3 separate regions of the Homo sapiens genome follow, and regions 2 and 3 are each linked to region 1. The links come from fine-mapping of genetic effects on gene expression. A gene starts in region 1. Each other region holds a variant in brackets. All regions are shown on one strand. Distances are between the middles of the regions. Region 1 holds the start of ZNF461 (zinc finger protein 461). Region 2 overlaps ZNF850 (zinc finger protein 850). Region 3 overlaps ZNF461 (zinc finger protein 461).

Region 1 (2,766 bases):
ACTGCTTAAAACCCGAAGGCGGAGGTTGCAGTGAGCCGAGATCGCGCCACCGCACTCCAGCCACGGTGAAAGAGAGAAACTTCGTCTCAAAAAAAAAAAAAAAAAAAGGAAGTTGCAGAACAATGTGTATTGTGGCCAAATCTCAGAAAAAAAAAATCAAACACATAGGTACATAAGCATACTACATATGTGGTGTTTTTCTGAGGCTGTAATGATAAATGCGGGGTAGCAATGTGATTTTCGCTTGTGTTGTGTGTGTAAATCTACAGCTAACTCCTCAAGTAGTCAGGAAAGGATGAGAGATGGATGAATGACAGATCTCTGGAGTGGGGCGTCCTGAGCCTTAGATGTGTGCACAGGAGCGGGGTGAGGTGAATGTGCGTGTGTCTGTGTGTGAGAGACCAGAGTTGACTGAGAGGAGTGGAAGCTCTCTGCCTGATCGTGTGAGCCTGAGGATAACGTGAATGTTTTTTTGTTTTTTTTTTTTTGAGACAGTTTCGTTTCACTCTTGTTGCCCAGGTTGGAGTGCAATGGCGCGATCTCGGCTCACAGCAACCTCCGCCTCCCGGGTTCAAGCGATTCTCCTGCCTCAGCCTCCCAAGGAGCTGGAATTACAGACATGCACCACCATACCCGGCTAATTTTGTATTTTTAGTAGAGGTGGGGTTTCTCCACGTTGGCCAGGCTGGTATCGAACTCCCGACATCAGGGCATCCACCCGCTTCGGGCTCCCAAAATGCTGGGATTACAGGGGTGAGCCACCGCTCCCGGCCTGTAAATGTGCTTTTTCTTTCACGTAAATAAATGAGATTTACACAAATAGCCATTCACAATCATGGTCACAGTCACCTACAAACCCCATTTACACAAATGATCAGGCACACAATCACACTGTCACTAAAGCACACCCACGCACCAGGTCGCTGTCCCAACAGTAACACACAGCCCAAAGAGAAACCCTACTTCCTCACGCATTCAAAACACACCCACCTAAGGGCTGATCCCGCACTCAGAGGCCTAAAACTATAGACATTCCCTTCCGCGGCACTGGTGAGCCAGGATTTCTTACCTTCAGCATTCTCAGGGAAGGCTCTGGTCCAAGCTCTGATTCGGATTCCAAGCGAAGCCACACGCCCAGCTCTTCCTTCTCCACCGGCCCGGGACATCCTTACCTGCCTCTACCCGGAGACCATTCCTGCGAGGCTCCTACCGGAAGTAGCTGTGGACAGCAGTGTCCTCTGGGAAATGCAGTCCGAGGGGAGAGCGCCTGGGGTGGAGCGGGTGTGTTCCGCCGGGCTCCGGGATGCACTTGCGCAGTTTCACCCGAGGCTGGAGTGACGCCAACCTGTTAATGTTCGTTTTCGGATTCTGGACTTCGGGTTCCGCTGAGGACGGATTTCGGAATAGGCACAGTGGCTGCCCCGAACCCCTCAAGGCGGCCTCCGCGGGCTGTGGCTGAAGATAATTTTCGGCGGGCGCGGACTAACCCGGCTTCCCTTTGTGGAGTTGTGGTGAGAAAGGTGTTTTGTTGTGCGCGTGTCCGAAGGTGACTCCGGAGGAGAAGGTGGATATGAACTGACGGTGAGGGTGTAGCGCGTGAGATTTGTATGTGAAACGATTTAAAAAAAAATTTTTTTTTTGGCCGGGCGCGGTGGCTCACGCCAAGGCGGGCGGATCACCGAGACCAGCCTGACCAACATGGAGAAACCCCGTCTCTACTAAAAATACAAAATTAGCCGGGCGTGATGGCGCATGCCTGTAATCCCAGCTACTCGGGAGGCTGAGGCAGGAGAATCGCTTGAACCCGGGAGGCAGAGGTTGCGGTGAGCCGAGGTCGCGCCATTGCACTCCAGCCTGGGCGACAGAGCAACTCCTTCTCAAACAAACAAACAAAACTGTATGTCATATATTTGACTCCATTTATTTATTTATTTAGAGACAGAGTCTTCTTGCCCTGTTGCCCGGGCAAGAAAAAACAAACAACAACAACAACAAAAAACTGTACGTCATATATTTCACTCAACTTTTTTTTTTTCTTTTTTTTTTTTTGAGACGGAGTCTCGCTGTCGCCCAGGCTGGAGTGCAGTGGCGCAATCTCGGCTCACTGCAAGCTCCGCCTCCCGGGTTCACGCCATTCTCCTGCCTCAGCCTCCCGAGTAGCTGGGACTACAGGCGCCCGCCACCTCGCCCGGCTAATTTTTTGTATTTTTAGTAGAGACGGGGTTTCATCGTGTTAGCCAGGATGGTCTCGATCTCCTGACCTCGTGATTCGCCCGCCTCGGCCTCCCAAAGTGCTGGATTACAGGCGTGAGCCACCGCGCCCGGCCTCTTTTTGAGACAGGGTCTTCATGCCCTGTTGCCCAGGCTGACTGCGGTGGCGCGATCCTAGCTCACTGCAGTCTCCACCTCCTCAGCTCCTCCCGCATCCACCTCCCAAAGTGCTGGGATAGCAGGCGTGAGCCACCGGGTCAGGCCAAAACGATTTATTTTATTTTTATTTTTTTGGTAAAGACAGGGTCTCGCTATGTTGCCCAGGCTGGTGGTCTCGAACTCCTGGGCTCAAGCGATCCTCCCGTCTCAGTGGCCAAAGTATTGGATGACAGGTGTGAGCCACCGCGCTGGGTGGTGAAACGGTTTTGAGGCTTTTTGAGAATGGCTGTTCTATATGCCCGCGTGGGGCTCATGCGGCGAGCGCCGCCACTCCCGCAGTGGCCCCTGTGGGGGTGATACGTGATGTGGCTTAAATGTGAGAGGCCACCTGGACCC
Region 2 (2,766 bases), 80 kb after region 1:
GACCTGTATCTTATGCTGACCTCATATCTCATCTTGTGACTTAGAATGACTTATCTGTCTAGGAATGCAGTCCAGTAGGTTTCAGTGTTACTTTACACAGCTCCTATTCAAGAAGAAGTTGCTCTGGTTTACACGCCTCTGACGTAACCATGCAGTGAACAAGTCTATTGGCTCCATTTATTCACCAGCATGTGCTCACTTTGTATCTGTGTCATATTTGGATGATCCCAACAATATTTCAACTTTCTCATTGTTGTTATATCTGTTATGGTGGCCTATGATTATCTTAGGCACCACTACTTGTTTTAGGGCATCACAAACTGTGTCCATATAAGACAGCAAACTTAATTGATAAACATGGTGTGTGTTCTGACTACAAACTTAATTGATAAACACTGTGTGTGTTCTGACTGCTCCACTGACTGGCTCACTGCAACATCCGCCTCCCAGGTTCAAGCGATTCTCCAGCCTTGCCTCCTGAATAGCTGGGATTACAGGCATATGCCACCATGTCTGGCTGATTTTGTATTTTTAGTAGAGATGGGGTTTCAACATGTTGGCCAGGCTGGTCTTGAACTCTTAACCTCAGGTGATCCACCCACCTCAGCCTCCGAAAGTGCTGGCATTACAGGCGTGAGCCACCACGCCCGGCTTGGAATTTCTAATATAAATTGCCCACTGGATCCAAAGGAGAAGGTGCGCACAGACTTTAGTTTTGCTTGCTTTCTTTCCAGCAAGGACTTTCTTAGCCACCTTTGCAGTTATGGGCTAAAGTAGACAGGGAAATAGACAGGGAAGGCGAAGCTTAAAACAAAGTCAGTAGTCAAACATGAAAAATATAGTCACACTTATTTATTATAAAAAAACTATTACTAGCCAGGCGTGGTGGCTCACACCTGTAATCCCAGCACTTTGGGAGGCCGAGGTAGGGGGATCACGAGGTCAAAAGTTTGAGACCACCCTGACCAACACAGTGAAACCCCGTCTCTACTAAAAATACAAAAATTAGCCAAGCATGGTGGTGCATGCCTGTAATCTGAGCTACTCAGGAGGCAGAGGCAGGAGAATCACTTGAACCCAGGAGGCAGAGGTTGCAGTGAGCCAAGATAGCACCACTGCACTCCAGCCTGGGCAACAGAGCAAGACTCTGTCTCAAAACAAAACAAACAAACAAAAAATACACAAAAACAACTATTGCCATCAACATTTTATCAATTAGTAATTTTGGCACAGAGAATTTACATAACTAGCCTAATGTCACGTAGGTAGTAAATGGTTGTCTTTTGTCATTG[A/G]CCACATTCTCTAATATGAATTTGTATAACTTCAATAAGCTTTGAATCATGATAGAAAACTCATCTACATTCATTATCAATTTCTTTCAGTATTAAATGTCCTAATTTTGGTGGGTGGATCACCAGGTCAGGAGATCGAGACCATCCTGGCTAACACAGTGAAACCCTGTCTCTACTAAAAATACAAAAACAAAAAAATTAGCCAGGCGTGGTGGCAGGTACCTGTAGTCCCAGCTACTAGGGAGGCTGAGGCAGGAGAATGGCATGAACCCAGGAGGCAGAGCTTGCAGTGAGCCGAGATAGCGCCACTGCACTCCAGCCTGGGCGACAGAGCAAGACTCCGTCTCAAAAAAAAAAAAAAAAGTCGTAATTCTGGAAAAAGTGAATATGAAGTAATACACATCCATTGTATTTGACCCACATATGGAATCTGCTGATGATCCATGACAAATGGCATGAGAACAGTTTCCTACATTAATTATGTTAGGTCATGAATTCTCTGATGTCGAGTAAGCTGTGTAAGCTGTTTAAAGGCCTTCCCACATGTCTTACATTCATAGGGTTTCTCGCCAGTGTGAACACTCTGATGTCGGCTGAGTCCTGAGGCATAGAAAAAGGCTTTCCCACATTCCGGACATTGATAAGTTTTCTCACCAGTATGGATTCGTTTATGTTGACTAAGTTGTGAAGGACATCTAAAGGCCTTCCCACATTCCTTACAATCATAAGGTTTCTCACCAGTGTGAGTTCGCTGATGTCGAATTAGTTCTGAGCCGCAAGTAAAAGATTTCCCACATTCTTTACATTCATAAGGTCTGTCACCGGTATGAATTCTCTGATGTAGAGTAAGGTGTGTACGCTGTCTGAAGGACTTCCCACATGTCTTACATTCATAGGGTTTCTCGCCAGTGTGAATACTGTGATGTTTGGTGAGTCCTGAGAAACGGACAAAGGCTTTTCCACATTCATGACATCGATAAGGTTTCTCACCAGTATGGATTCGTTGATGTTGAGTAAGTTTTGAACGACGTCTAAAGGCCTTGCCACATTCCTTACAATCATAGGGTTTCTCACCAGTGTGAATTCGCCGATGTTGGATTATTGCTGAGCGAAAAGCAAAAGATTTTCCACATTCCTTACAATGATAGGGTTTCTCACCAGTGTGAATTCGCTGATGTTCAATTAGTGTTGAGCGAGAAGTAAAAGATTTCCCACATTCTTTACAACTGTAGCGTTTCTCACCAGTGTGAACTGGCCGATGTTGAATTAGTGCTGAGCGAAGAGTAAAAGATTTCCCACATTCCTTGCAATGATAAGGTTTCTCACCAGTGTGAAGTGGCTGATGTTGAATTAGTGTTGAATGAGAAGTAAAAGATTTCCCACATTCCTTACAATCATAGAGCTTCTCACCAGTGTGTATTTGCTGATGTTGAATTAGTGTTGAGTGAGAAGTAAAAGATTTCCCACATTCCTT
Region 3 (2,766 bases), 20 kb before region 1:
CTAAAATTCCATTAAGAGGGTAGATCTCATGTAAAGTATTTACAACACAAGAAAATTTTTTAAAGTGTTTACATATTTAATAAATACTTTTTTCTATTTCTTAGCATACAGCACCAATGTAAATAAATATTAATTATAGCATCCACAGTTAAATTTCTCAATATTTGTTTTTGAGAAACACTGAGTATTTTTTGAGAAACACTTTATTTCCCACTTTATTGAGGGAAAATTGACAATTAAAATTTATATATTTAAAGGATACAACCTGATGATTTGATATACATTTACATTGTGAAATAATCACCACAGTCAGCTAACTAACCTATTCATCACCTTACATAGTTAACTGTTTTCTTTTTTTTGTGGTAACAAAAAAACATGTACCTTCAGCACGTTTCAAATATACAATACAGTACTGCAAACTAGAGTCATAATATTCTGGAGTCTGAATGTGGATATTCAGAATCCACTCATCTTGCATAACTGAAGCTTTATTTTATTTATTTTTTTGAGATGGAGTCTAGCTCTGTTTCCCAAGCTGGAATGCAGTGGAGCGAACTCAGCTAACTGCAACCTCCACCACCCGGGTTCAAGCGATTTTCCTGACTCAGCCTCTTGAGTAGCTGGGACTACAGGCGTGAGCCACCATGCCCGGCTAATTTTTGTATTTTTAGTAGAGGCAGGGTTTCACTATGTTGGCCAGGCTGGTCTGGAACTTCTGACCTCATGATCCACCCGCCTCAGCCTCCCAAAGTGCTGGGATTACAGGCGTGAGCCACCGTGCCTGGCCAGATTTTGACTATTTTGTTGTTGTTGTTGTTGTTGTTATTGTTGTTGTTGTTATTGTTGTTGATTGAGATGGAGTTTCACTCTTGTTGCCCAGGCTGGAGTGCAATGGTGTGATCTCAGCTCACTGCAACTTCCGACTCCCAGGTTCAAGCTATTCTCCTGCCTCAGCCTCCCCAGTAGCTGGGATTACAGGCGTGTGCCACCACGCCCGGCTAATTTTTTGTATTTTTAGTAGAAACGGAGTTTCACCATGTTACCCAGGCAGGTCTCGAACTCCTGACCTCAGGTGATCCACCCTCCTCTGCCTCCCAAAGTGCTAGGATTAGAGGTATGAGCTGCCACACCTGGTCAAAATTAGACTTTAGGAAAGTTTGTGTCAGCCCCTGTGAGCTTGACAGCTTCCAAATACTTAAAGACTTACCTGATTAGATTCGTGGTGTTATTAACAAGTATGATTTTTTGGCTATTTTATAAGAAAATGTGTCAAAGTCTGGAAGATCTGCATAACTAATTGGAGCAATATTTTCCAAATAACTAATGCATCATGTTACAAAACAGGTAC[C/T]ACAGATAAGAGATCCATTCAAAAAACAAGACAGACTAGTGAGTTTTAATTTAATAGATTAAATTCAGAGGCAGATGTGAGATCCACGTGTCTTCTTTTAATCCAAGCATTAAAGAAACGTGCAAAAAATGAAAAACATTGCCACTTTTCACAATAACTATTTTCGTTTTGTTTTGGAAAATATAACTTATTTATGTTAACATATAGTTTATTATTTTTAAATGAATTAAATGAATATTTCATTTTTCCTAGATTTAATTTCTAAGACAGTTAATATTGAAGGATATAATCTACATATGCAAGAGCTCTTGGGGTTCTCAATAGTTTTTAAGAATATAAAGGCATCCTGAGAATAAAAAGTTTGAGACTGATAACTATATATAGCATTGCATTCTAACACAATTTATTTTCCCATATACCTAATGATGGACATTCTGGTTGCTTCCAATAGTTGACTATTATGATTAGTGCTGCTATGAACATTCCTGTACATTTCTTTTGGTGGAAATAATTACTCTTTTCTGTTAGGTATGCACATCAGAGTGAAATTGCTGCATCATAGGATATAAATTTCTTCAGCTGTAGTTGACATTATGCAACAATTTTCTAATTTAGGCCAGGTGTGGTGGTTCACGCTTGTAATCTCAGCACTTTGGGAGGCTGAGATAGGCATATCACTTGAGGTCAGTAGTTTGAGACCTGCCTGGCCAACATGGTTAAACCCTGTCTCTACTAAAAATACAAAAATTAGCTGGGTGTGGTGGTGGGTGCCTGTAATCCCAGCTACTTGGGAGGCTGAGGCAGAAGAATCGCTTGAACCCAGGAGGTGGAGGTTGCAGTGAGCTGAGATGCGCCAGTGCACTCCAGCCTGGGTGACAGAGCAAGACTCTGTCTCAAAAAAGCAAAAAATAAATAAATAAATAACATTCTAATTTAAAATTCCACTTTCAATTTACTTTCAATTCTTTTGCGTATATACCTAGAAGTAGAATTGCTTGATTATATGGCAATTCTATTTTTAATGTTTTGAGAAATTACCATACTGTTTTCCATAGTGGCTGTATGATATAGCTCGGATATGTGTCCCCTCTAAATCTCATGTGGAATTGTAATCCCCAGTGTTGGAGGTGGGGCCTAGTGGGAAGTAACTGGATTATGGGAGCGGTTTTCTCATAAATGGTTTAGCACCATTCCCTTGGTGCTATCCTCATGATGGTGAGTGAGTTCTCATGATATCTGGTCCTTGAAAGTGTGTGGGCTGGGTGTGGTGGCTCATGCCTGTAATCCCAGCACTCTGGGAGGCCGAGGTGGACAGATTATCTGAGATCAGGAGTTCAAGACCAGGTTGACCATCATGGTGAAACTGTGTCTCTACTAAAAATACAAAATTAGCTGGGTGTGGTGGCAGGCACCTG

The links. PIP is the estimated chance that this variant, and not a neighbour inherited with it, causes the effect.
Region 2: its variant is the best candidate, but not a certain one, in a credible set for the expression of ZNF461 in whole blood (TOPMed, PIP 0.59).
Region 3: its variant is the best candidate, but not a certain one, in a credible set for the expression of ZNF461 in whole blood (TOPMed, PIP 0.67).

What each region holds. Positions count from the first base shown.
Region 1 is chr19:36,665,621-36,668,386 of GRCh38, forward strand. It overlaps ZNF461 (zinc finger protein 461), which reads right to left and starts at 1,217. Exons shown (of 6, transcript NM_153257.5): 1 at 1,070-1,217. It also overlaps a transcript of ZNF567 not described here. RefSeq lists an enhancer at 1,394-1,523.
Region 2 is chr19:36,745,997-36,748,762 of GRCh38, forward strand. It overlaps ZNF850 (zinc finger protein 850), which reads right to left. Exons shown (of 5, transcript NM_001193552.2): 5 at 1-2,766. The coding sequence ends at 1,771. Among named protein-coding and RNA genes, the nearest start is that of ZNF850, 25 kb to the right of the region's middle. The variant A/G (reference allele first, on the strand shown) is at 1,293.
Region 3 is chr19:36,645,293-36,648,058 of GRCh38, forward strand. The region is part of intron 4 of ZNF461 (zinc finger protein 461); the gene reads right to left. Among named protein-coding and RNA genes, the nearest start is that of ZNF461, 20 kb to the right of the region's middle. The variant C/T (reference allele first, on the strand shown) is at 1,352.